Homo sapiens: one gene and its partners. The protein of the gene in region 3 purifies or fractionates together with the protein of the main gene of each other region. This does not show direct contact. Each region holds a gene or a part of one and is shown on either strand. Other genes may lie near its edges. The genes, in order: CTNNA2, ARHGAP23, SAPCD1 and ARHGAP21.

What was found.
Region 1: the proteins of SAPCD1 (region 3) and CTNNA2 purify together in Homo sapiens (affinity purification with mass spectrometry; 3 studies listed by BioGRID and IntAct, with this or other methods). This does not show direct contact.
Region 2: the proteins of SAPCD1 (region 3) and ARHGAP23 purify together in Homo sapiens (affinity purification with mass spectrometry; 3 studies listed by BioGRID and IntAct, with this or other methods). This does not show direct contact.
Region 4: the proteins of SAPCD1 (region 3) and ARHGAP21 purify together in Homo sapiens (affinity purification with mass spectrometry; 3 studies listed by BioGRID and IntAct, with this or other methods). This does not show direct contact.

What each region holds. Positions count from the first base shown.
Region 1 is NC_000002.12:79,873,050-79,880,073, reverse strand, and holds part of CTNNA2 (catenin alpha-2), read right to left. Parts: intron 5,999-7,024; coding exon 5,732-5,998; intron 1-5,731. UniProt on the Homo sapiens protein: May function as a linker between cadherin adhesion receptors and the cytoskeleton to regulate cell-cell adhesion and differentiation in the nervous system. Required for proper regulation of cortical neuronal migration and neurite growth.
Region 2 is NC_000017.11:38,431,458-38,438,481, forward strand, and holds part of ARHGAP23 (rho GTPase-activating protein 23), read left to right. Parts: intron 1-7,024.
Region 3 is NC_000006.12:31,757,696-31,765,374, forward strand, and holds SAPCD1 (suppressor APC domain-containing protein 1), read left to right. Parts: upstream 1-4,960; 5' UTR 4,961-5,359; coding exon 5,360-5,473; intron 5,474-5,719; coding exon 5,720-5,860; intron 5,861-6,368; coding exon 6,369-6,464; exon of another isoform or gene 6,465-6,570; coding exon 6,571-6,660; exon of another isoform or gene 6,661-6,740; coding exon 6,741-6,836; 3' UTR 6,837-7,155; downstream 7,156-7,679. Other genes in the region: MSH5 (mutS protein homolog 5), read left to right, coding at 470-598, 853-925, 1,071-1,180, 1,402-1,482, 1,730-1,817, 2,091-2,280, 2,395-2,521, 2,995-3,144 and 5 more.
Region 4 is NC_000010.11:24,594,867-24,601,890, forward strand, and holds part of ARHGAP21 (rho GTPase-activating protein 21), read right to left. Parts: intron 6,065-7,024; coding exon 5,780-6,064; intron 3,144-5,779; coding exon 3,079-3,143; intron 2,718-3,078; coding exon 2,581-2,717; intron 2,017-2,580; coding exon 1,874-2,016; intron 1,178-1,873; coding exon 1,022-1,177; intron 930-1,021; coding exon 851-929; intron 325-850; coding exon 251-324; intron 174-250; coding exon 84-173; intron 1-83. UniProt on the Homo sapiens protein: Functions as a GTPase-activating protein (GAP) for RHOA and CDC42. Downstream partner of ARF1 which may control Golgi apparatus structure and function. Also required for CTNNA1 recruitment to adherens junctions.

The DNA of each region.
Region 1 (7,024 bases), on a different chromosome or scaffold from region 3:
ATCTCAATAGATGCAGAAAAGGCCTTTGATAAAATTCAACATCGCTTCACATTAAAAACTCTCAATAAACTAAGTATTGATGGAACATACCTCAAAATAACAAGAGTTATTCATGACAAACCCACAACCAATATCATATTGAATGGGCAAAAGCAAGAAGCATTCCCTTTGGAAACCAATACATAACAAAACTGCCCTCTCTCACCACTCCTGTTCAATATAGTATTAGAAATTCTGGACAGGGCAATCAGGTAAGATAAAGAAATAAAGCATATTCAAATAGGAAGATAGGAAGTCAAATTTTCTCTGTTTGCAGACAACATGATTGTATATCAAGAAAACCCCATCATGTCAGCCCAGAAACTCCCTAAACTGATAAGCAACTTCAGCAAAGTCTCAGGATACAAAATCAATGTGCAAAAATCACAAGCATTCCTTTACATCAATAACAGACAAGCAGAGAGCCAAATCATGAATGAACTCCCATTCACAATAGCTACAAAGATAATAAAATACCTAGGAATACAGCTAACAAGGATGTGAAGGACCTCTTCAAGGAGAACTACAAACCACTGCTCAAGGAATTAAGAGAGGACACAAAAAAATGGAAAAACATTCCAACCTCATGGATAGGAAGAATCAGCATTGTGAAAATGGCCATACTGCCCAGAGTAATTTATAGAATAAATGCTACTTCCATCAAACTACCATTGACATTCTTCACAGAATTAGAAAAAGAAACTACTTTAAATTTCATATGGAATTAAAGAAGACCCCGTATAGCCAAGACAATCCTAAGCAAAAAGAACAAAGCTAGAGGCATCATGCTACCTGACTTCAAACTAAACTACAAGGCTACAGTAACCAAAACAGCATGGTACTGGTCCCAAAACAGACAGACCAACGGAACAGAAGAGAGACCTCAGAAATAACACCACACATCTACAACCATCTGATCTTTGACAAATCTGACAAAAACAAGCAATGGGGAAATAATCTCCTATTAAATAAATAGTGCTGGAAAACTGGCTAGTCATAGGCAGAAAACTAAAACTGGACCCCTTCCTTACACCTTATGCAAAAACTAACTCAAGATGTATTAAAGACTTAAATGTAAAACCCAAAACCATAAAAACCCTAGAAGAAAACCTAGGCAATACCATTCAGGAAATAGGCATGGGCAAAGACTTCATGATGAAAACACCAAAAGCAATTGCAACAAAAGCCAAAATTGACAAATGGTATCTAACCAAACTAAAGAGCTTCTGCACAGCAAAAGAATCATCAGAGTGAACAGGCAATCTACGGAATGGGAGAAAATTTTTACAATCGACTCATCTGACAAAAGTCTAATATTCAGAATTTACAAGGAACTTAAATTTACAAAAACAAACAACCCCATCCAAAAGTGGAGAAAGGATATGAACAGACACTTCTCAAAAGAAGATGTTTACATGGCCAACAAACATGAAAAAAAGCTCAACATCACTCATCATTAGACAAATGCAAATCAAAACCACAATGAGATACCATCTCAGGCCAGTCAGAATGGCAATTATTAAAAAGTCAAGAATAGATAGATGCTATAGATGCAATTGGTGCTAGCAAGGCTGTGGAGAAACAGGTACGCTTTTACACTGTTGGTGGGAATGTAAATTAGTTCAGCTATTGTGGAAGACAGTATGGCAATTCCTTACAGATCTAGAACCAGAAATACCATTAGACCCAGCAATCCCATTATTGGGTATATACACAAAGGAATATAAGTCTTTCTACCGTAAAGCCACATCCACATGTATGTTTACTGCAGCACTATTTACAATGGCAAAGTTATGGAACCAACCCAAATGCCCACCAATGATAGACTGGATAAAGAAAATGTGCTACATATACACCATGGAATACTATGCAGCCATAAGAAGGAATAATATCATGTCCTTTGCAGGGACGTGGATGAAGCTGGAAGCCATCATCCTCAGCAAACTAACACAGGAACAGAACACCAAACACCACATGTTCTCATTCCTAAGTGGGAGTTGAACAATGAGAACACATGGACACAGGGAGGGGAACAACACACACCAGGGACTGTTGCGGGGTGGGGGCAAGGGAAGGGAACTTAGTGGATGGGTCAATAGGTGCAGCAAATCACCATGGCACATGTAAACCTAGATAACAAACCTGCACATTTTGCACGTGTATCCTGGAACTTAAAGTAAAATTTTTAAAAAATAAATTTTAGGGCAAACTAGCTGTGCTGTCTATGAAAATATATTTTGCATTTTTATGGTTCCTTTTACTTCAGCATTTCAAAGACGTTAAACTTATTTAAATTTTCACTATATGAGAAAGGTATTATACCAAGTATCAGTAAGAGATTTTGCCAGAAAAGTAAACCACAGGAAGTTTGAGTGAGTTTTTCACCCAATGAAATATCAATTTGTTTAATATCTGAGAATAGCATTTAGGACTCATGACAGATGTCCATGAATTCAAAATCAATTTCAAGTTAGCATGCCTAAGAAATTTTTAAAAAAACAGTATTCATCATACAACTATGGAACAGAAATTTATAATTTAGTCATAAAATAAAGAGAAACGGTATATTATTTTAATGAGAAAATTTCAAGTATCATTAACTACTGTCTAGGTTTGCTGATGTCAGAAGTGATGGAAAATCTACAGCAGGTGAATCACATTACAGTCTGTAAATTCAATACTAATTTACTAGCATTACTACTTTTGAGAAAGTGCTGAAATTAAATTGCATTTGTTAAATGACAATTGTTAGGGAACCACATCAAATGGAATTATTGTTTCAAAACTGCAATTCAGACAGCCTCCACATTTTGATTTTTGTTGACCTCCAAGAAGTAAAATGTTGACCATTAGATAACGCTTTATGTAATTCTCATAGCTTGAGAAACAGTATACATTTAATAAGAATATATTACCTCATTAATATACTTAGCTAATATAAAATATAATTTTTTCATTCATATATAATATACTGAGTTAATATTATAAGTAATATAATTAGTTAATATAGAAGTTTAAAGTTAATAAAATATAGTTAGTGACTTATTTACCATATTATACTTTATATTTTAATTTTTCCAACTGTTTCAAATATATCATGTTTTATAAAAAACATGTTTGATGGTTATATTCATGTGTTAAATTTCCAAAGCCTTATTTGTCCAGCATGAGGAGATATCACTTCAGGAAAAACAACAACAACAAAAAAAAAACCTTGAACATTCAACATGTTGACATACTTTGCTAATAGATTTTCCCCACATGACCTCAAGTTTGATTTTTATGAATGAAAGCCTTTTGCACTGTTGCACTGACGCATCGGTTGTTACATTAATTGGGGATAAAAGGTGCTTTTAATGAAAATCGTCTGGAAACAAAAGGCAGCATGGGGAAGCAGCAGTTGTCACACTCTTGGACAGAAGGTGGCAGCAGCTGAAGTTCCTGGACTGTTCACAGGCCTTCTCTCTGTGCTTCATATTTTCACTCTTAACCAGCTCCTCACTTAGGTTTTGTTGTTTATTTTTGATTATAAAATAAATTATAACTAGAATAATGTAATTGTGTCAAAATCTGACTAAATAATCCATTCTTAACTAATTTTAATAAACACCAATTTATAAAATAATTTTGTATTTGAGATTGCCTATGATTTTTATTCTTTCATGGATGAGTCCATTTGTGTTTCAATACACACCTTTAAAATTAATGTAGCATTACAATGTTTTAATATCTGTGTGTATGACCTGCTCATTTACTTTTCCCTGAAATATGGGCTCATTCATTCTTTATTCTAGAATATAAAAAAAGACAAACAAACAAAAATCCTTTATCACTCCTCTGTCAAGTTCCAAAAGAATCCTCTTAGAATTTGTATTGAGATTGCTTCAACATTATGAAAACTGATAGGATCAATAGTTCTCCTACTCAAGATCATGATATCATTTACTGACAAGTAAAACTTGTCCCTCAATAAAGTAATATAATTTGACTTTTTAGGTCCTTCACATCTATATTAGACTTATTTCTAGCAGATATAAGAAATAATAAAATAAAATTAACTTTTTAAAAATTATTTGTTTTGTGAATATCTCCTCGTTATTCTACTTTATTTTACATGATGAAAATCTAGAGATTTTTGTATATTTATGTTATATAAAGTAAACATTATTTTGAACTCTCATTATTTTCTATGAATTTTCAGTTGCTCGCTGCAATTTTGTGAATAAAATTACCTATTATTAAGTCTTCATTTCTGTAGCAAGTGCTTTAAATATATTATCATATTTAATCCTCACAAAAAAAACCTTAGGAAATAATATATGGTGTGAGATACATATAACTAACTGTAAAAATATGGGAAAGAGGAGAGACCACTATGAAAATGGTAAGAACTATTTGAGTATGAACTGTTAAAATTATTCCTCAGTTATATCATCCATCTCCAAGCCTTGAACAATCATTGCTTTGCTCCTGGACCTTTTTTTCCAGCTGCTAACTAGTTATTTCTTGCCAAAAATTCACATCAACATATTCAAAAGCAAGCTCATCATCTTTCTTCATGACCATTAAGTAACCTATTTTTCTTCTATGAATTCCTGTAACATTGTGTTTTATCAATTAAATGGTGTTTAGTGCATTCTACTTCCCTCATCTCCCCTGCAGGGTTATTTAACCCTGGAAAGTAGATGCTAATTATTTATAAATCTTTGTAGGCTTTCATTGATCATAAGATAAATAAATTCCAACTTCTCACAGGTCCTCTGACCCGGGGGGAATGGGGGCTGTCATCCCGGGGTGCTGATGACATGCGTGCAACCTTCTCACTCACACTGATGCTTCACATATGGCTCAGCACAGTGAACAATCCTCCTTGCTTCTTCCCTCACCAGGACACACCTACAGAAACAGCCAGTGTAGAATGTAGGACTTTCAGAGAACTAACACAGGCTCTCCCCAGAGGGTCTGTTCTAATGAAGACCAGGGTCCTGTGTGGGATCATAGGGCAATGTACTTTATCACTGATTTAAAACAAAGAAATTGATGGCAGCTTTTCACGCAGGCACAACATAGAGGCAACGTACATCTAGGCTGCCCATAACATGTGCCCCTTTAATAATAAAGATGATCGTCAAATTATGAACTGTCCCTAAAATAGCCTGTAAGTTATCTCATCTACCTGGAAGGGATTGGGCACTCTTAAATACAGTTGTTTCTTCTTTTTTCCCCGAGACGGAGTTTTGCTGTTGTTGCCCAGGCTGGAGTGCAATGGCACGATCTCGGCTCACCGCAATCTCCGCCTCCCGAGTTTAAGCGATTCTCCTGCCGCAGCCTCCCGAGTAGCTGGGATTACAGGCATGCGCCACCACGCCCAGCTAATGTTTTACATTTTTAGTAGAGACGGGGTTTCTCCATGTTCGAACTCATGACCTCAGGTGATCCACCCACCTCGGCCTCCCAAAGTTCTGGGATTACAGGGGTGAGCCACCGCAGCCACAGTTGTTTCTTTAAAGACAAGTGATAATGGCTTAGCCAATATATTACAGAAATGCATTATGTAGTTTATCTTACTATTAAAACCTCCAAAAGAGAAAAATCAATGTAAATTATTGTAGTGGCCCTTCATCCTCAATACATTTTTTTTTTTTGTCAACACCAGTGCCCACCCCTCTGTGTACCTCACCAGGATGCTTACGTCAAACTCATTAAGAGCCGCAGCCAGCTCGCCGATGCCCGTGTGGCCCTTGGCTTCGTCAGTGGGCGAGGTAGCTTGAGCAGCATTGGAGATGCCGGCGATGGCCTCCTGGACTTGTTTGAACACATAATCTCGGTTGGCTCTCGTAGCGGCGACATCTGGGTGGCGGAGAAATGCTTGAGAGGCCGTGTACAGCATTGTGGCATTCTTCTTCAGAGCCCCTCGGGCGGCTGCCATCTCATCCCGACAGTGAGGATCCTTCAGCTCCTGTGTGTGTAACACATGAAAGCTGTCACACACATGAAATTTGCATAGAAATATTTGCAACACAGTTTGGAGTCACAGACTCTTAGTAACACACTGAACTTCAGAAACCCTTGTGCTGTTTCTAGCTGCCAGGCCTTTGCATATACTCTTTTGTTTGTTTGTCTGTTTTATAGAGACAGCTAGGTCTCTATAGTGACCTAGGTTGGAGTACAGTGGTGTTATCAAAGCTCACTGCAGCCTCCATCTCCTGGGCCCAAGTGATCCTCCCTCTTCAACCTCTTAAGTGGCTAGAACTACAGGTGCATGCTTCCACACCAGGCTAGTTAAAAAAAAAAAAGTTGTGGAAGTGGGGTCTGGCTATGTTGCCCAGGTGGGCCTTGAACTCCTGGCCTCAAGGGATTCTCCCACCTCTGCTTCCCAAAGTGCTGGAATGACAGCCATGAGCAACCACACCTGGCCTACTGTCCCTTCTATGTGAAATGCCTGAGCTTTCCTCCTCTGCCCTACCCTTTCACCTGACAGGGCTCCACTGACTTGGCACATCCTCCACCCAACTTTCTAAGCTGTGTCCCCTTTCATCTGTTCCCACAAGACACTCTTCCTCTCCTATCACTAACACTTCCTACTTTACTGTATTTTTTGAGCATATATTTCTCTTCTATAACGTACCTCTAATGACAGCAGGGAGCCCTAGTTTTCTTATTCAGTGGCTCTTTAGTCATTAGCAAAGTGGCTGGCCTATAAGAGGCATTCAATAAAATATTGCTGAGATAATATAAAAACCAAGCCACCAAGAAGGTAAATTGATTGCATGGGCCATACAGTTAGTTATGAACAGACAGAAAACCTGAAAACGTCAGTCTTCTGAGGCCCTACTTGCCTCCATATTCAATTACTGTTACAAATGGGAAACCAAACTTCTGATTTTTGCTCAACACATCAGTGTCCCTTAATTATCATTTTCAGAATAGGGTTCCTGCTTTGTTGTTGTTGACAGCCTCTAATGGCAGCTCATCATTAAGTTTA
Region 2 (7,024 bases), on a different chromosome or scaffold from region 3:
TAGGGCCTGTGGGAGCTGGTGCTGCCTTTCCCCTAGCACCCTCCACCCGCTTCAAACAACCCGCCTTCAGATCCAGGCCCCCCTGTTTCTTGTGAAATTGTGCCAGTTTGTCAGCAGGGCAGTACCAATCTGTGCCAGGTGGGTGTCTCCTCCCCCATTGCCTCAGTGGGACATCAGGCTGAGATGGCCTTGGGGCTGGACTTTGGGGAGATTTTAAAGCCCTTTTGGGTTGGGGTGTATTTACCACCTGTCAGAGTGGGTGAGGACCAAAGGGGTGATCGTGTCCAACTCTGTTACGCTACAGTGGGGAAACAGACTGGGGAGTGCCCAAGGTCCCTCAGCCTCGGCAGACAAGGACCCATCTTCTGACTCCCAGCTCCCAGGCCATGCCTTTCCCTCTGTGGTTGGTTCTGTCCTTCGTGGCCCCCCTCAGTGCAGGGTTCATGGACTGGGCTCCAAGAGGGAGAGGGGAGGGCAGGGAGCTGCAGGGATGAGTGGACAATGTATCCTGTTCATCTCTGTGTCCCCAGTGGCCAGCACAGAGCCTGGCACAGAGCAGTTCTCCATAAATGTTTGTGAAGTACAAACCAGGGAACAGCCCCGCCTGTGGCCCCCCAGGGCGCCCCATGCCCAGCTCTACCCCTGACACTGTGATGTTCCATCTCATATCCGTCTACCCTACCAGGTAGGAGTTATTTGAGGCCGAGAAAAATGATAATAGCAACTTCTTCCATAGTGCTTACCACTATGTTGGTATATTACCATCACCCCACTTGACAGATTAAGAAACTGACACAGGCCGGGTACAGTGGCTCACACCTGTAATCCCAGCACTTTGGGAGGCCAAGGTAGGAGGATCACTTGGACTCAGGAGTTTGAGACCAGCCTGGGTGACACAAGGAGACCCAATACCTACAGAAAAATTTTAAAAATTAGCTGGGGCCAGGAGCAGTGGCTGACACCTGTAATCCCAGCACTTTGGGAGGCCAAGGCGGGTGGATCACCTGAGGTCAGGAGTTTGAGACCAGCCTGGCCAACATGGTGAAACACTGTCCCTACTAAAATTACAAAATTAGCTGGGTGAAGTGACACACACCTGTAGTCCCAGCTACTTGGGAGCCTGAGGCAGGAGAATCGCTTGAACCTGGGAGAGGGAGATTGCAATGAGCCAAGATCACGCCATTGCATTCTAGTCTGAGTGACAAGAGCAAAATGTAGTCTTAAAAAAAAAAAAAATTAGCTGGGCATGTAGTCCCAGCTACTCGGGTGGTGGAAGTGGGAAAATCACTTGAGCTGGGGGGTTCGAGTCTGCAGTGAGCTGTGATTGCACCACTGCACTCCAGCCTGGGCAACATAATGAGACCCTGTCTCAAAAAACCAAACCAAACGAAACAAAAAAGCTCTGCCTGCCTTCAGCCTGCTGAGGTCCAAATTTTAGATGTACTCCTTGTTCACTGTGTGCCCTTGGACAAGTTACTTCATTGTTTTAGCCTCGGCTTTCTTTTATTCTTTTGAGGCAGGGTCTTGTTCTGTTGCTCAGGCTGAAGTGCAGTGGTGTGAGCTTGGTACACTGCAGCCTTGAACTCCTGGGATCAAGTGAGCCTCCCTCCTCAGCCTCCTGAGTAGTTGAGACTACAGGTGCATGCCACCATGCCCAGCTAATTTTTCCATTTTGTATTTTTTATAGAGACAGGGTTTTGCCATGTTGCCCAGGCTGGTCTCAAAATTCCTGGACTCAAGTGATCCTCCCACTTTGGCCTCCCAAAGTGCGGGGATTACAGGTGTGAGCCACCACACCTGGCTGGTTTTCTTATCCCTGAAATAATCCCTCAAAATTACAGAGAGGGCTAAATGAGGTAGTATTGGTAAAGTGGCTGAGATTTAGTAATCTCAATTATTGGTAGCAACTATTATTAAAAAAAATCAATGGATAGAAATGAGAACAATGCACTTTTGCCTCAGTAAAAAGTACTGACCTTTATGGTCAGAGCAATCTAAAGAGAAAGTGACCTGCCTCTGGAGGTAATGAGGCCCCCATCACTGGAGGTGCAGTGAGGTCTGGGCAAGCACAGGCTGGAGAATGATGTGCACTAGAGAGAATTCAGCAAAGGCTTGGCACAGGAAACTTTAAGGGCCCTGCCTTGGGATCAGCACTATATGATAGGAAATTAGAGGAGCAGGTGAATCCTACTTCCTACTGTGGGGCATTGAGGAGAGCAGGCAGAGATGTCCCCAGCCTCTGGGAACATCAGGGGTTGGCTGCTATGGTTTGGACTGTGAGGCTCCCCAGAGGATAGGTAGTCCTGAGAGGCTGCCTGGAGGAGGCCTGCAAGGGTGGGTATGGTTCTGATAGGTGGGAAAATGTGGGATTGTATTCTAGGCCCAGGAAGGGCTTGGTGGCCGAGGGACAGAGAGGAGCCTGGGCCACTGGTCCTGAGGTTGGCCCCGGGGTTGCGTCATCATCCTCGTGCCTCAGTCTCCTGGGCTGCTGGGATTACAGGTGTGCCACTACACCTGGCTAATTTTTTTTATTTTTTTAGAGACAAGGTTTCGGCATGTTGGCTGGCATGTTGGCCAGGCTGGTCTCGAACTCCTGACCTCAGGTGATCCACTTGCCTTGGCCTCCCGAAGTGCTGGGATTACAAGCGTGAGCCACCGCGCCTGGCTGGATTTTGTCATCATCCTGGGTGCCCAAGGGGTTTGGGTGTATGGTGGTGGCAGTGGGGAAACTAGTAATTCCCTGTCCCGCCAACCCCCCAGCTTCTCCTGGAGGAGGAGCCAGGGCTACTCCCGGTGGCAAGGAGCCCGGGCCCGTAAGGAGCGGAACTGGGGAAAGAAAGACTTCTTATGCCCAGTGCATTTGGGGGCGTCCGGGGGTCGGGGAACAGTGGGGCCTTTGTCCCCAACCGCTGGGAATCTGGCCGAGGAGCTGGCCCTGGGTCTGGCTAGGCCCTCGGAAGGCAGGTCCTCTTTGAAGTGACCCTTTCAAAGCTCGGCCTGAATCCCTGGGAGGAGAGACAGCATGGGGCGGGGCGTGGGGATGACTGAGACCCAAGGGCCGAGGCCTGAGGGATAGAAACAGACCCGGCCTTGGCCTCTTGGGGTGTGGAGGTTGGTCGGAGGTGTGTGGGCCGGAGGAATGTGGTGGGCTGGGAGACCGCGTGGGAGCCATGTGGGAGGACAACCACGCAAGGGGCCTTAGCCCCAAGTGGGGGTGCACCTAGGCAGGGGCCGAGTTCATTCTGGCCCGAGAGTGTTTCTGTCTCCTATCTGACTTCTGTCTGGCTCTGTGCTCCTGTATCAACAGCTGCTTCTTCCTTTTTAATTTCCCCAAAAGTGTGAGAGCTTGGAAAGAATCGGGTGTGGACGCCAGACTCAGAGCTCTTGGGAGGAGGGAGAGGTGGGGACCTGGGCAATCCAGAGCTTTTCCTGCTTCTGAGAGCCCCCGAAGGCTGGAAGGAGAGGCTGGAGGGGACACCCCCACCTCCCGCATAGAGTCTCCCTTATGCTCAAGGTGGAGGAACTCTGTATTGTTCCTGAAAAGGGACAGAAGGAGGAGGAAAGCTACCCAGAGAGGGGACATCTTCCTTTGCTTCAGCTGGAGGAATATCAGAGGCCACCCTCCTTCCCTGTCTCTCCATTTGCCTCATGGGGAAACTGAGGCCTAGAGAAGGGACAGGCCAAGGGGATAGAGCAGAGAGGAAGGGACCAGCAAGAGTGGAAGGAAGCCAGCCCTGTGTGGTTGGAACTGTAGGGACTATGGTGGCTCACACCTGTAGTCTCAGCTACTCGGGAGGCTGAGACAGGAGGATTGCTTGAGAGGATGGATGCCAAGTGGGAGGAGGAAGGGGCCTCAGGTTGTTGAGTTGTCATAAGAGGGTTGTAGAGAAGTGCCCAGAGTCCCTTCAGCTCTGACCTGCGGTGATTCCATGAAAAGAGGGAGAGGAAGGAGTGGTTCCTGCTGGTGAGTTCCCAAGGTCCAAGTAGAAAGGGGCACCCCAGGCTTTTGGACTGAGCAATGCACAGGGGAGCCTTTGGCAGCCCAAGGGAGAACCTTGCCCCCGAATCTGATGCTGTTTGTACTTCTTGCCCTGGAACCCGATCTCTCCTTGGCCTCACGGCAGTCTCTGTACTGGGGAAAATTTTTTGTTGTTGTTGTTTTCGAGACAGAGTCTCGCTTTGTCACCCAGGCTGGGGTGCAATGGCGCGATCTCGGCTCACTGCAACCTCTCCCGGGTTCAAGAGATTCTCCTGCCTCTGCCTCCCGAGTAGTTGGGATTACAGGCGCCCTCTACCATGCCCGGCTAATTTTTTTGTATTTTTAGTAGAGATGGGCGTTCACCATGTTGGTCAGGCTGGTCTCAAACTCCTGACCTCAGGTGATCCGCCCGCCTCAGCCTTCCAAAGTGTTGGGATTACAGGCGTGAGCCACCGTGCCTGGCCTGGGAAGATTCTTATAAATCTCCCTTTCCTCTTCTGGAGGTGTGGCCCTGGGCTCCTCCCCAAGAGAGGTGGAGGAGGGGGCGGAGGCCCCAGGCTGCAATGGAGGCTGTCTGCGCACTGTTATCTTGCACTGGCATCACAGAGCTGAGCTTCATTAGCTCTAATGAAGCCTTGGCACTGTGCCCCTCCCACACAGCACCTAGACGTTTCAAGGAAGGCGAGGGGGACAGCTGAGGTTGGGTCCAGAGCCCAGGAGATGGTCGGGGGGATGTTTGCAAGAGGAGAGGGTAGGAGGCAGAAAATGGGGACCACACAACCAGGCTGGGGTTGCCAACATGAGGGAGAAACAGCCCCTCTTCCTTCCCCACTGGGAGCTTTTTCTTCTCCAGTGGCCCAGAGGCCTAGGTACCCCCAGTGCTAGGGAAAGCCTTATCTGAGAGACGGGATGTGGTCTGGGGATGCTGAGGATATTCCCCTCAGCTACCCCTACCCCCCCAAAAAAAACGCTGAGGAGAGTGCCCCTCCTGCCCTCTCCGTAATTTCAGCCGGGGGCAGGAGAAGGCCCTGATCCCAGCATGGGAGGCCCAGGGCTTGGGAAAGTCCGCCAGTGGGCTGGAGCCGAATCGAACCCACTGTCAGTGGTGATCACTGGTTGCTCGTGCTCTGCGTTCCAGGCTCTCTCTTGGGACCTGGATGAATGAGAAACAACCCTGCTCTCAAGGGCCTCCTTGTCTGCTTTTCCTACCGCCCAAAAGCCAGACAAAAAGTCTCCACAAAGACTGTAGAACCATGAGTTCTAAGATTTGCATCCAGCCCATCGATCAGTCCAGAACACCCCTCAGGGGCCCCCTGCCAAAAATATTAATGTAAAAACGGCCCAGTCTGACTGGGGTGATGGACCTGCAGCCTACACAAGCCAATGTCTTCACCATGGTAATCGTTGGAAAGTGAGTGTGGTCACAAAGGCGATAACGGGAGTTTAAAACTGGAAGCCGGAAGCTGGGTAGAATTGCCACAGGGATTGGTTAAAAACCAGTTGGTGATATGATTAATCTCCTTTCTCTCATCTGTTTCCAAATCTATCATTAACCTGAGGATTCTATAGTGAAATCCTTTTTGATCGATTTTCAAGTGCCGTCATAAAGGGGGTGTATAATTACAGATGCAACGACTGAGACCTGGAGTGGGCAAATAACTTCACTCAAGGTCACCAAGCATCAAATTTCAAGCTGGGCCAGGCATGGTGGCTCACATCTGTAATCCCAGAGACTTGGGAAGCTTCGACAGGAGGATTGCTTGACGCCAGGATTTTTTTTTTTTTTTGAGAGAGGGTTTTGCTCTGTCACCCAGGCTGGAGTGCAGTGGCACAATCAGGCACACACCACCATGCTTGGCTAATTTTTTTGTAGCGATGGGGGTCTCCCTATATTGCCTAGGCTGGTCTTGAACTCCTGAGCTCAAGTGATCCTCCTGCCTTGGTCTCCCAAAGTATTGGGATTACAGGCATGAACCAAAGATCAATTTGAGACCAACATGGGCAACATAGCAAGACCCTGTCTCTAAAAAATTAGCCAGGTGTGGTGGTGCACACCTGTAGTCCCAGCTACTCGGGAGGCTGAGCTGGGAATATTGCTTGGACTCAGGAGTTTGAGGCTACAGTGAGCTATGATTGCACTGCTGCACTCCAGCCTGGACAACAGAGCAAGACCCTACCCACCCCTACCCCCCCCAAAAAATATTAAAGCTGGGTCTTTCAGAATCCTAGGTCTGTCATTGTGGTGACTGCTGTATTCTCTGACAACAAGGAGCCTGGGAGGACACCCCTCACCCAGGGAAGTTAGACCCTCTTTTCCACAGCTGAGCCCTGAAATCCAAGCAAAGGTTGGCATAACGAAGGGGGGGGAGGGCAGATGTAATGGGTGGTGGGTGCAGAGAGATGTAGATTAAGTTCTGCTTCTCTGTGTCTTCTGTGATTCAGTGTGGAGTCTGGATTTGCTCGTGAGTGGCGTGGGGGACCCCAGGGTTCTGTCAATAAACATGGCTGAGCCCCTGCCTCCTCCAAAGATGGTCCAGCTCTCAGGGGAAGAAGGCTTCACTGTGGGGAGATGAGGCTTGCCAAAGCTTGAAAGATGTTTGCTAGGGCCAGGCACGGTGGCTCACGCCTGTCATCCCAGCACTTTTGGGGGCCAAGGTGGGCAAATCACGAGGGCAAGAGATCGAGACCGTCCTGGCCAACATGGTGAAACCCCATCTCTACTAAAAATACAAAAATTAGCTGGGCGTGGTGGCATGCGCCTTTAGTCCCAGCTACTTGGGGGGCTGAGGCAGGAGAATCACTTGAACCTGGGAGGTGGAAGTTGCAGCGAGCCAAGATCATGCCACTGCACACTCCAGCCTGGTGACAGAGTGAGACTCCGTCTCAAAAAAAAAAAAAAAAAAAAGATGTTTGTTGGGGCAAGAAAGGGATGGAGGAGAAGGGAGAGAAGGGTGTGCCAGGCAGAGGGACCAAGCATTAGCACAGGCAAGGAGGCATGAACCAGCTTGGCCTCTTAAGGGATTGATGAATACAAGGCCCAGAATA
Region 3 (7,679 bases):
ACAGAGTCTCGCTCTGTCGGCCAGGCTGGAGTGCAATGGCGTGATCTGGCTATAACCTCCACCTCCCGGGTTCAAGAGATTCTCCTGCCTCAGCCTCCCAAGTAGCTGGAATTACATGTGCATGCCACCAAGCCCAGTTAATTTTTGTATTTTGAGTAGAGACAGGGTTTCACCATGTTGGTGAGGCTGATCTCGAACTCCTGACCTCAGGTGATCTACCCACCTCAGCCTCCCAAAGTGCTGGGATTACAGGCATGAGCCACTGTGCCTGGCCAGGACCATATCTTAATTGTCTTTGTAGTTTCAGTGTTTGGTACAGTGCCTCTCACTGTTTCTTTTTGCCTTTGAGATCTTCCCTCTTTGTTACTGTGATCTTCCCTACTGGTCTTTGTTCTTCTGAGTCTGTCCCTATCACCACCTCAACCCGAGCTGGATGTGGCCTGTCCTCCTTTTTGTGTTTCTCTCACAGACTGTGTACAGTGCCCTGGGCCTGAGGGATGCCTGCCGCTCCCTGCCGCAGTCCATCCAGCTCTTTCGGGACATTGCCCAAGAGTTCTCTGATGACCTGCACCATATCGCCAGCCTCATTGGGAAAGTAGTGAGTAGAAGGAAAAAGGGAGTGCACCCAGGGAGGTCAGGGAGAGAGAATGCAGTGTGCAAGATGGGGAAACATGGAAGATATTGAGGTCAATTGGATAAAGAATGGGATGGTGGGAGGAGGCAGCAGAACTTCAGGGAAGTATCTGGAGGGTGAGAGTTAAAGGAGGACTGCAGGGAGAATTGGGGCCCAAGGAGAGCTGAGGAACAGGACAGAGGGTGCCAGGTCCTAAGAAACAGTACTTATCTCCTCAGGTGGACTTTGAGGGCAGCCTTGCTGAAAATCGCTTCACAGTCCTCCCCAACATAGATCCTGAAATTGATGAGAGTGAGTGTTGGGTGTGGATGGGCCTGTGAGCCCTGCGCAGTGATGGAGTACCATCCTTGGCAGGTGGTCACCACAGCTGGGGATCTTCATAGCAACCAGGGCAGGAGACTCACTTTTGATAACCACGTGTCTTCCACCCTCGTAGAAAAGCGAAGACTGATGGGACTTCCCAGTTTCCTTACTGAGGTTGCCCGCAAGGAGCTGGAGAATCTGGACTCCCGTATTCCTTCATGCAGTGTCATCTACATCCCTCTGGTGAGGGCAGGAGAGTGGGTGTAGCCTTCAGATGTCTTTTGGGGGAGATATTAGGCTTATGAAAGACATACTGGTAGATAAGAAAACTTGTGGGGCAGCCTGAAGAACATGAACACTTTTTTGTGGGGATACAGGGATCTTTTAAGCTCCCTCTAGGGTGGGGAGGTGTCCAGTAAGTCTCCAAGCAGGAGAGTAGAGTATCTCCTCTTTACTCTCCCCAGATTGGCTTCCTTCTTTCTATTCCCCGCCTGCCTTCCATGGTAGAGGCCAGTGACTTTGAGATTAATGGACTGGACTTCATGGTAAGACCCTCAACCTCTGTAAGGTGAGTGATGAGGAAAATGAGTCAGCAGCTGAGGAAGAGCGTTACTCTACAGCAGCACTGCCCAATATGGGATCTCTCCTCTGTAGTTTTACTCTGAGCTTTACCAGCACTGAGACAAAGGAAAGAGAAGTCAGAGTTAGGGGCTGGAGGTGGGGTTAGAAAGATGGGGAAGGAGAGGAGGACCAAGAGATGCAAAGTCCACAGCTTTGAACCCCTGTACCCAGTTTCTCTCAGAGGAGAAGCTGCACTATCGTAGTGCCCGAACCAAGGAGCTGGATGCATTGCTGGGGGACCTGCACTGCGAGATCCGGGGTGAGGAAAAGCCAGAGGTTATATGCATTGTAAGATGTTTAAAAAAAGCAGCAGCCAGGGGAAGGAGGGGAGTGGGCAACTTGGGGATGCTTCCAACAGGCCCCTCCTCTTCCTGCTCTCTGTCTCGCTCACTCTGACTCTATCTTTTCCTCTGAATGTCTTGAGGTCTCAGATTGTATCTGCAACCTGTTTCCAGATCCCCCTAGGGGCCTCTGCCTCTCCTTCACTTTCCCCTGGAACTGACCTCCAGCTCCCTTCCTCACCCACTCCCAGACCAGGAGACGCTGCTGATGTACCAGCTACAGTGCCAGGTGCTGGCACGAGCAGCTGTCTTAACCCGAGTATTGGACCTTGCCTCCCGCCTGGACGTCCTGCTGGCTCTTGCCAGTGCTGCCCGGGACTATGGCTACTCAAGGCCGCGTTACTCCCCACAAGTCCTTGGGGTACGAATCCAGAATGGCAGGTAAGAATAGAGGCGGGTGGAGGAATAGACATGAGGGGCCCAAAGGCTACATCTTCTGGGGGTTCATCTATCTTGATCCACAAGCCATGCGAGGTGCCTCTCCGCCCACTGCAGACATCCTCTGATGGAACTCTGTGCCCGAACCTTTGTGCCCAACTCCACAGAATGTGGTGGGGACAAAGGGAGGGTCAAAGTCATCACTGGACCCAACTCATCAGGGAAGAGCATATACCTCAAACAGGTGAGGAGAAGCCCTGCAGCCTGGGCCTCTGGCGTCTCCTGCATCTACTCCACCCCTACTTGCCAGCCAACTCAGGCTCCTGCAGCTCTTCTCCCATTTTCTGACCCCGCTCTTCATGAAAGGACCATCACCCACATCCCTGTGCTTCCACCTCACATGTTCTTATTCTCCACTGGAGAGCCATGCTCTAATGGAACTTTCCGTGGCCCAAATTCCTTCACCTGCCTCTGAGTAGGTACACACCACTCCCAAGTATGTCTCTGCCCACGTCCCGTGCCTCTTCACTGATTCTAAATTAGCCCACAGGGCTATGGTCAGGATTCGGGGAGGAGAGACAGAGTCAGTGTGTCTGTTACCTATTTCTCCTGTTTCACCCTGTCCATTTCTCTTTGATGTGCCATTCATGCCTTGAGCCTCACTTTCACCTCAGCCCACGGCACCAGGCCCCAGGCCCTGTCTCCTTCCCTATTCAGGTAGGCTTGATCACATTCATGGCCCTGGTAGGCAGCTTTGTGCCAGCAGAGGAGGCCGAAATTGGGGCAGTAGACGCCATCTTCACACGAATTCATAGCTGCGAATCCATCTCCCTTGGCCTCTCCACCTTCATGATCGACCTCAACCAGGTCAAAGGGAACAAAGGGAGGTGGGATTGAGGAAGGGGATAATGGGAAAGGAACCCCTGAAAATGCTCATAACAGGAAAGCATGCCCTCTGCTGCATGCCCTTTATACTAAAAGTGGGGAGCACTAAGGTCAGAGATAAGAAGAATCAATACCATAAACATTTCTTGAACCCTTGTTTCATGTGAGTCACTGTTGGCAAAGAGGATGAACAAAGCGTGCACCTCACCATTCAAGAACTTGCAGTGCAGTAGGGAGGGCATGTATACAGCTTTATTCACAGGCCAACTGTGGTCAGTGCGTTACGGGCTTCCAATACTAACTTTCCCTTGTCCACCTTATACCCAGCAGGTGGCGAAAGCAGTGAACAATGCCACTGCACAGTCGCTGGTCCTTATTGATGAATTTGGAAAGGGAACCAACACGGTGAGGGGAGAAACTGATGAGGGGAGAAACTAAGGAGGGGAAAATGGAGGAGGATGAAGGAGCATGACAGTGAGGCTGGGCCTCTGGAATGGAATAGGGCTGTGTGGGCAGAAAAGAAATAGAACACGAGACAGGGAAAGGCAGTGCAAGTGCAGAGGGGCATATGGGGTCCCCATGGCTCCGAATGCTAACCTCTGCCCTCTTTGCAGGTGGATGGGCTCGCGCTTCTGGCCGCTGTGCTCCGACACTGGCTGGCACGTGGACCCACATGCCCCCACATCTTTGTGGCCACCAACTTTCTGAGCCTTGTTCAGCTACAACTGCTGCCACAAGGGCCCCTGGTGCAGTATTTGGTGAGGAGACCAATCTAGCTCCTCGGGGACCCCCAGGCTGGGCATTTCCCAGAGGTGGGGATTGGCTCCTCTATCAGAACAAGGGCTCCCTCAGCACAGAGACCACATCCCTTCCCTTTTCTCCCTCCCCACAGGATTGGCCAAGGGTTTCAGGACAGGAAGGAGGTGATTGATGATACACTGTCTTTTATTCTCTTTTAAGACCATGGAGACCTGTGAGGATGGCAACGATCTTGTCTTCTTCTATCAGGTTTGCGAAGGTGTTGCGAAGGCCAGCCATGCCTCCCACACAGCTGCCCAGGCTGGGCTTCCTGACAAGCTTGTGGCTCGTGGCAAGGAGGTGATGAGATCCAAATGTGCAACCACCTCCACATCAGAGCTCCCTTTCATTCCTAGTCCTACTGGGCCTGGGTCTAGGTCCACAGGATTTCTGACCCTTATTTCCCCTTCTCTTCCCCACTCCCCTTACTCCTCCCACCTTCTTGCTTGTTCCTAGGTCTCAGACTTGATCCGCAGTGGAAAACCCATCAAGCCTGTCAAGGATTTGCTAAAGAAGAACCAAATGGAAAAGTGCGTATATGGCCCCAGTGTCTTTACCCTCTCTGCATCTTCTCCTGCAACTCTTCTCCCCTTTTCAGGGACTCAGCCTTCCTCCAGCACTTTGCCCTTCAGAAACCCACCATTTCTTTCTGAAATCCCTAAATCTTCAAGATCCCAGGTTTTCTGTGCCACAGCCTCTCCCCTCTGCCCAGGGATTTGGTTGTCCATTCTGCCATAAATCTTGCGATTTTCTCTCTTCTTCAGTTGCCAGACATTAGTGGATAAGTTTATGAAACTGGATTTGGAAGATCCTAACCTGGACTTGAACGTTTTCATGAGCCAGGAAGTGCTGCCTGCTGCCACCAGCATCCTCTGAGAGTCCTTCCAGTGTCCTCCCCAGCCTCCTGAGACTCCGGTGGGCTGCCATGCCCTCTTTGTTTCCTTATCTCCCTCAGACGCAGAGTTTTTAGTTTCTCTAGAAATTTTGTTTCATATTAGGAATAAAGTTTATTTTGAAGAAAGATATTGTTTCTTTAGTCTCAAAACAAGAGACTAGGAAAGATCCAAAACACAGAGCAGGAGTCCACAGGGGAACCTGCCCTGCCTCAGTAAAAATACAGTGTTGTTGCTGTAGGAAGACTCCCGGATTCTACCCCAGGATACTTCATGAGAACGAACCCCTTCAGAGAGGCCCTACAAAACAGATTAGAGGGAAGACAGAGGGGTCCAAGGGAGATGGTCTCTCTTCTCAAGTAGGAACACCCCAGCCTCAGACAGACACAGCAGGAAGGGGCCTGAGAGGCTGACAGAGGCAGGATGGGTGCAAGGCAGGGGTGGAGGGGAGGGACCAGCCCGGGCTGCACCAGTGGGAGTGGCTCCACCCTTCCCACCTCAGAGCCATGGGGAGCCAGGGCTCTGGCGGGGTGCCCTTGGTGCAGGCTCCCTACACAGTCCTGCTGCTGCCGCTGGGGACAAGCCGCCAAGACCCAGGGGCCCAGAGCTTCTTCCTTTGGGTGAGTATCAGCCCAACAAGAGGTCCCAGGGGAACTCTCTCAATAGATCTGCCCTTTATATTTCCATTCAACTTGAGGGCCCACAGTGTTCCCGCCTGCCTCCCCTTGCCCTCCAGGTCCTCAGTGGCCAGTCTGGGTTCACACTCAGTGACCACACAGTGAACCCAACTAGGGGTGGAGAGAAAGGGCCATAACCCAGAGCCCTACTGTGGCGTGAGAGTCAGCCTCTGTGATTGCCTTTCCCAGCTACGCAGGATGCAGGCTCTGGAGAGAGAACAGGATGCCCTGTGGCAGGGTCTGGAGCTGCTACAGCATGGCCAGGCCTGGTTTGAAGACCATCTGAGGGAGGCACAGCGACAGCAGCTGCATCTAGGGGCCCTTGGTGAGGTATGGGGGCTGCCCCTCTGTGTGAATGGGGGGAGGACCAGGGAGGGAGGAACAGGGAATGTGTAGACACAGCCTGAGACCACTCTGGAGAGGGGAGAGTTAATGGTCAGGGATCATGAGTTGGAGGCAGCATCGTAATGACAGGATGCCACCAAGTGTTAAGTTGGTGTTCATTGTTGGGGCTGGAGGAAGCTGGTCTGCATTCCATTCAGAGGGATTTGGATCACTCCATGGAGATGAGGGTGTGGCCTGGATTATTCCAATGGGGCAGGGATGGACAGGGAGGCTCCATGAAGAGTAGTGAAAGGGGGTATTGTGCTATTTGAGGGAGATGGAGGAACTGATGTGCTAAAGAGATGGAGGTGGAGAGTACTGGATTTTCCCACCTGCCTGGGAGGGTACTGGGACGAGGGGATCCAGATGAGAGGGATGGCCTGTGGTGACAGGAATAGAGTGGCAGACGACCTCAGGTTTTCACCATGTTGTCAGCCTCCAACTCCTCCTCTAGAATTTTCTAACAGATTTACACTCAGAGCCTGGTCGCCCCCCGTTAGCCCAGATTCAAAAGGTGAACATCTGTTTGCAGAATCTGATTCATGAGAAGGTGAGTTTATTGTTTTCAGTTTAGACTTTTGGGAAGTTGGACTAGAGAGGGGAGTTGTTGGGGTCAGTGCTGGCTTAACAGAAAACACAGCGAATTTCCCCTCCAGTTCTCCCCAAGTCCACTGAACAAGGCTAGTTCCTGCACCACCCAGGATTCAAAGGAAAGACGAAGGGAGCAGAACTTGTGGCAGCAACAGGTAAACTTCAAGAAGGAGGGCAGGAGCCCCACCCTACAGGGCTGGGAGGAGCCCAGAGGCCCCATCTGTTTCTCCTCCAGGAGTTGTCAAGGCAGCAGAAAGGAGTCACCCAGCCAAAGGAGGAGATGGCTCAGCGGGGCTGCACCAAGGGGCCAAGAGGCCCTACCCGTGTCTAAACCCTCCTCTCACTCCCCTAAGCCTGGTGAAAGAGTCAGAAGCCCCAGGCTCCTTTTTCTGTTTCTTAACTCAACAGCTAAAAAATGGCTCCAGGTAGTGAGTCAATGAAGTTCAGACATGTTGGTGTAAAGTTTCTCCTCTGCTCCTGAAAACTTCATCTTCTTGGTGTCTCATGTCCTCATTCTCCCCTATATGACATGCAAAAACGATCTTTCTTTGAAATCCCTCTGGGAAGAAGCATGTTTATTGAAACTGTCCTTCAGCCTTAAATACAAAAATAAAACTGAAACTGCTCCAGAAAGCAGCTTTCTCCAAAAATGTCTTTGGTTTGTTTCTCATAGGGTTAGGAAAAGTGCATTGTGGGAATATCCATTGCCCTCTATCCCAGTCTTGCAGGGTGTTTTGTTTTGTTTTGTTTCTGAGATAGGGTCTCACTGTCGCTCAGGCTGTAGTGCAGTGGTTCGACCACAACTCACTGCAGCCTCAACCTCCTGGGCTCAAGTGATCCTCCTGCCTCAGCCTCCCAGAGTGCTGGGATTACAGGCGTGAGCCACTGCACCCAGCCCCAGTCTCGAAGTTTCTAAGAAAGGAAAGGGATGTGATGGAGAAAGAAAACCTTCATTGGCTGGGCACGGTGGCTCACGCCTGTAATCCCAGCACTTTGGGAGGCCGAGGCAGGCAGATCACCTGAGGTCAGGAGTTTGAGACCAGCCTGGCCAACATAGTGAAACCCTGTCTCTACTAAAAATACAAAAAATTAGCCGGGCGTGGTGGCGGGCACCTGTGATCCCAGCTACTTGGGAGGCTGAGGCAGGAGAATCGCTTGAACCTAGGAGGCAGAG
Region 4 (7,024 bases), on a different chromosome or scaffold from region 3:
GACTATTTGGCATGAAGTAATGAAGCATATCTTTTAAACTAAAGCCACTAAAAGTACATTTCTTCAATAAGCATTTTACATACCTTATTTTTTTCTGAATTTTCTGCCACTGTCTTCAGATGAGCTGAAAGGAACTTAAGTGTTTCATAATGATGTTCAGGCAAATCGTGAATCTGAAACAGATTATTTTCACAATGGATTCAGAGGCTGAATTTTAGTTGTATCCCCCAAAATATAAAATAATACCTACTAGTCTTTTTAATGTTTTCAGACGATCTAGAGGATCTTCTTTACGATTGGCTTCAATAAAATCAGCATATTTATCTGACGACAAGAACAATAAAACAAATTTATCTTAAATTGCCTAGGTGAATTGTAATCTAGTTTCCCTTTAAGGATCAATTTTAAACCACAACATAGGAAAGAGTTCTAATAGTTTTGAAATGTAAATTTCTAAAATGTAAGTTCCCTGCAGGAACCATCCTATATTTACACAGCCTGTCCATTCCTCCCCCACCCTCCAACAACATCTAGTAAAGTGTCTTACATGGCACTTAAATACTTGGCTTGACTGAAAAAACATTTTTCTACTCATTGTACCTTATGATGTCAGAAGCCATTTGACTGGAAACAATAATATTAATTTGGCTGCAAACATGTATGAACAAGATAATACATATTTCACTGAACCTAAATAACTTTTATGTTTTTAATATATGAGGGAGAACTAAATAAAGCCTCCTGCTTCCTTTGACCAAGACATTTTGTCCTTGTTCAATTTAATATTCTATGGTTTTCCAATTGTAACTTGAACCATTTCATCTGGTATCTTTCACGGGAGTTAACTCACCATTTGTGAAGAGAGGCTCAGGGAGTTTTCTGAAGAAGGATTTTAGTAAACTGCTTATCACATTCAAATCTCGCCATTTCTAGGTGTACAAAATAGAAATATAGTATTTTCATATCCAGTTCCACCAAAGGGGGAAAAAAAAGGATCAGTTATTCAAATAAGCAAACTTACATCATCTTGTATATCAATATCAGCCATTCCCTTGTTGAGTTCTTCTTGCATACTTGAGATGGCTGCATTATTTCCAGGAACTCTATAAATACCTGTATATTCAAGACCTCTTTCTTCAACTAATTTGCAACATATGTCAACTATTAATGGAATATACTGCAAAACAAGAAATAAACATTTTATTTAATGCAGCACAAATGTTTAGTAGTTGTATATCACAGCTAAAATGCCCCTTTCATCCAAAAGGAAACATAAATTGCTGTTATGTAATATAAAGAATACAGACATTATAGATCTGGGAATAGATAAAACCTGCAAGAGATATTTGAGACAGTAAGAAGAGAACAAAGAGACTGAAAGAAAGAGAGGGACCCCCAGAGAGATAACATTCTAAAAAGGAAGTAACAACAGGTAAAGAGAATGTGGAAACCGTTCCGCTGAATAAAGAGTCAAGAAAAGAGGAGGAGAGAGTAATATCAATTCATGATACGAATCCTAGCATGGGTGTTTTAAATATATGCACATACATTTACATGTATTATACTTTCTTAATCAGGTCCTTGTTCTCATCCTTGTTTTAAAATGCTAAAAGCAGAAACACACGATTTGAAGACGAATTCTTACAGACCATTTCAGACAAATTCCTAATGGTTGAATAATTATTCAATTTCGGAGTCAATACATTAGAAAAAAAGCATTACAGGTCAGAAATACTTAGGGAAACTAAGGTCTGCTATGAAAAGGAAAACAGATTGACAGTCTCTGTTGTCTGAAAGGCTATATACTCAGATCCCATTATAATCAAAACTGAATTAATGACTTGAGGAAATCCGGTGGGCTGGTGTCTCCTACCCGATTAGTATGAGCTGGTGGGCAGTCATCTAGTCGGACGCCGAAAGTTCCTGTAGCAGTTGGCTTTTTCTCAAATGTCTTTCTCATGATACTTGGAATGCCTTTTCTCCATGTGCCTTTGTCTTTTGGGGGACTGGTATCATCTTTTGATTGCCAGTCAAAATAAAACAACATAATAAAATGGAAATGAGTGTCTAAATCATGACTTTAAAAACACTTTATCAATGTTTACATAAATCCAAGTCCTGTAATATAAATAATACATCCTATATTTAACAAAAATATGTTCTCTTCCATATAACTTTTACTTCATTCTTTTATAATGCGTGCTATAATTTTCTTTAAAACAGCAAAAAAAAAAACTACATAGAATCAGTGTGTCATCTTTATAGTGAGACTTCAACAAAGGGAAAAGTAATAGTTTTATTTCAAAATGATAGGACCTGAATCCTCGGAGTCATTTAAATTTGTAATGTCTCTGATTTAAGTATTGTTTGTATTTTCCCTCACTTTCGCTTTATAATGAAGCTGGTGTCTTGGGCCTCACAAAGGGAAAGGCCCAATGAGCCCAGACCAAGCCTACTATGAATTTTGAGCTAGTTGACATGGGGCCTGGTCAGTAGAAATGGTACAGAAAACATAAACGTACCTCAACGATGCCAATTTTAAATCATTATATTTATTTGTTAGAAAGCTAACATCAATACCTTTACTGAGAAGTTTCCTTTCCGACTCTTCCTTCGGAGAGTGTGGGCTTTGAGTCTTTGGCTCTGATTTAGCACCAAGCAAAGTTTGCCTGATGCTGAGACTCTGGCGAGGTGTTTTTGGCAACTGTTCTGCTTTGCTGTTGAAGGAAATGACATTTGTTAACAATTACAGTAATCCCCCTCTATCTATGGTTTCAGTTACCCGTGGTGAGCCATGGTCTGAAAATATTAACTGGAAAATTCTTGGAATAAACAATTCATAAGCTTTCAATTTTGTAGTCCTGCCCAGAATAAGAATCATCCTTTCATCCCGAGTAGCCACACTGTATACACTACCCGCCCATTACTATATGGGAAAAAATATAGCGTAGAGAGGATTTGGTACTATCTGCGGTTTCAAGCATCCACTGGGGGTCTTGGAATGTATCCTTGCAAATAAGGGGGATGACTGTACTGATTTTATATCCAAATTAACTGCAGGCAAGGTGGGATTCTCACCTCATCAGATTGTTGTATTCTTTTATTCTTCGACTAATTAGATCCCTGTTAGTGACTCCAGTGTCCTACAGAATAAAGTAAAATTAGAAAATCAATTCTAAACATAAATAAGTGATCCTTACTTTTTTGAGGCTTTCTATTGTACTGCTTTGCTTATTTAACACAAACACTACTATCATCTGTTCTCAGTGGAGCTGTTTCAAAGCTTCTATTCAACATCACTGTGTGAAAGATTTTCCAAGTGCCTCCCAACATTGCCAAAGGGTTTTGCTTCTTTTCTGTATCCATGCGATACCTAGGATAGTACCAGCAAGTAACATGTGTTCAATACTTATTGAATTGATCCGTCCATTTAAAATAAATGACTAGGAAGCAGCCAGTGTTTTCTCTAATACCAGAAAGAATGATCAGCATTTAAGAAATATACGTGTAAGTGATTTTTCTTCAAAAAGAAAAACAAATAATATAGGTGGATAAAAGATGAAAACAGACTGCCAGAATTTGTTAGTGACTGACTAATTTTTAAGGATAGTGAAACCAAGGATCAACTAGTATCACAAGCGGCAGTTACATTATCAGAAGATAAGAGAAAAGCTCAAAATTTGCATGATTTTTTTTTAACCTCTGTGAGTTACCTTGTATGAAATGCTATATGGTAAACCCAGAGTTGACCATAAAGTGATCCTTTTTTTCCTATTCATTCCAATTATACATTGATATTGACTGGGGTTCTCAATTTTTTTTAACTTGCCTCATTTTGATGATAGTGAATGATGATACAGTTTACAAAGAATACAGTCTTTAAATACGGGAGTAAGTTATCTTGAATTTAAATAGACTCTTCCAACTTATCAGCTGAGAGATCATATGATTAAGATCTAGAATAAGACTGCCTGGATTTAAATCCTACCCCTGATGCTTAAGTCACTGTGTGACCTTAGGGAAATTATTTAGCCTCTCTTTGCCACTGTTTCCTTATTTTTAGAATGGTGGTGATGATAATAGGACACATTCATATGGTTGCTGAGATTAATGCATGTAGTATGTTTAAAATAGTATCTGCCATATGGTATGTGCTCAGTGAATTATTGTTTTCTCATCTATAAAACTGGGGAAAATACTTGTGTACCTGTGTCTTAAGATTAGATGGTGATGCTAATAGCTCACATTAAGTAAATGTTTATTACTTGGCAGGCATTCTTCACATGCATTATCTCATTCAATCCTCCAAACAGCCACTATGTGTCACAGAACAAGTCATCTGAAGGAGTTTTAACAATGACAGTCTACTGCCTGAGAGAATGCCTGACACATAGTAGGTGCCTGTTACACAGAACTCCTCTGAACTATTACTTAAAGCTGAAATCCACATCTAAGTTCTTATTCTCCCTGTTTATTTTGCAAAAATTCAGGTCTGATGCCCTCTGTATAGCGGGTAGTTGTACAACATAGGTTGCACTGATAAAGATCTGGTGTTATTTTTAACCACAAACAAGGCAGAGTGTAAACTACCAAAGGAAAAAAAGCACACTTTTCCTATGGTGTAACGTTTTAATACTTTGAATTGGATATAATGGAAATGACTAAATTAGAACATAATTTGCATAAGTTTACATTTAATGTAGGCATTCCTGAGTATTAAAAGAGAACTTCGTGCCCCTTTTTTGGTTATAATAAATAGGCATGAAAAGTGAGAACACAGTGAAGAAAAAACTGTGTTAATGATAAGAAAATACTTGAGCAACTGCTACTTCATCATTGCTAGATTTGCTTGATAAAGTTTATAGTTATACATACTTTAAAAACTATCTTTACTATTGAAATTCCTACTGTGAAAATACCTTGATGATCATAAGCTGTAAATTCTCAAATCCCTAAACACTGTTCTGCATGAAAAAGAAATGCTGGGCCGGGCGCGGTGGCTCACGCCTGTAATGCCAGCACTTTGGGAGGCCGAGGCGGGCAGATCACAAGGTCAGGAGATAGAGACCATCCTGGCTAACACGGTGAAACCCCATCACTACTAAAAATACAAAAAATTAGCCGGGCATGGTGACGGCTGCCTGTCATCCCAGCTACAGGGGAAGCTAAGGCAGGAGAATGGTGTGAACCCGGGAGGCAGGGCTTGCAGTGAGCCAAGATCGCGCCACTGCACTCCAGCCTGGGCAACAGAGCAGGACTTCGTTTCAAAAAAAAAAAAAAAAAAGCTGACTTATGATTTTTGAAAATGCAAGTTTTCTTAGAAACTAACTATTGTGTGACAGTAGGCTATTCCATATTCTTGACTGTATAGTTCTCTTAACAAAAATCATCAGTATCACTCTGCATTTATATAGTTATTTATACTGGTAAGTATTTTTACTGTAACTTAAGCCCTACAACAATCCTGTCTTTGAAAGATGGAAATGGATCTGGAATAACTTGGTCACAAACAACCAGGACTAGGAATGTAGTTCATTGCTTCTGAGAAGGTATACAGCATATATAAATAACCTATTTTTCTAGTTCAGTGATGGTGATTTTCCAATGTGTGAAAATAATATAAAACAGGTATGTTTGAGTTTTCCTTTTCATCAACTGTTTTACATGAAAATAGCACATTATAATTTTTTTATAAAAATGATATATCATATTCCTTAGATCTTTGTAAGAAAGTGTTGTGAAAGGGTCAGATTTCTCCAGCATTCCTTTGAACACCCACCTCTTCGTTTAGGTTGCTGCTCTCCTGGATCGTCTTGATCCAAGCTAGCATATCATCTCTGTCTTCAGCCTGAAACAGGCATTCACAGTCGGACGTGGTGAGTCGAAACACATTTTTCCTCTTGGTCTCACTGTAAGAGATGTCTATCAAGCAAGCATTAACACTGATGGGCTGCTCTTCCTCAGACGGAGTCGTCTGCTCTCTTTTATCTTTGTACAGGTAAAGTGAATGACCCCGAAGGACAACATACATCTGTTTCCATGGCCGAATACTTCCACCAACTCGCTAGAAAACATGCGACAGTTCTTTAATAGTCAATATTTGGCTAAATCTTTGTGACAGGATAAGCACATTAAGCAACACCCTTCCTCTGCATTTACATATAACTAGTGTAGCAGGTGGCAGATTTAGCTCACTACATTATTTGTGAGGAGAGGAAGGATAAAAATTGTGGAGCATAAACTGAGTTAGGCAGTGTATTCATATCAAAGTCAAGGACTGTGAAATCCCAACTTTAGTTGGGAAGGCAATATGAACAAAGCTAATCAAATAAAATAAATGTAGCAAAACATATCAAAAACAGTAACGGAATAGAAAATTTAAAAATCGGTCCAAAAAACCTGTTGAGTGAAAGACTTACGTCTTAGAGCACACAAATGACAGATACTGCAGGAGTTCTCCAACAATTGTATACATAACTAATTAACAGAGTTCATCAACTTTATATGGCTAAGCAACTCTATCCACATCCAAAGTGAGCTTTCTTAAAATTTTTAAACTCTTCTGACAGCATTAAAATGTTCTTATATATAAGCTGTCCAAATATTATAGAAAATTTTTATGGCAAAGTCTTTTTCTGTTGAAATCTACTGGATGCATATATTGATATTTTTATATTTGTTTAACTTAATATTTTTAAAATAAAATGAAACAAAGTTATAAAGGTAATTTAAAATAAACTAAGAAAAGAGACATAAAAATTTAAAACTGATTTGCCACTTCCTAAAGGACAACGGAATAACCCATTGCTAATAAACTAATAAGAAAAGCAGAGTTCCTTTTTAAATACTTAGATTTCCTTTTTACATTGCCAAAACGTAAGACAATATATTCTACATGTAGCTGATACACAGGACAAAAAGTACCAAATTAATGCAATAATTAGAATTTTTTTAAGGAATACTTTTTTTAATGTAGAAAAATCTATTTATAAATGGTTTTTTTTTTCACTCTTTAATCTGGATA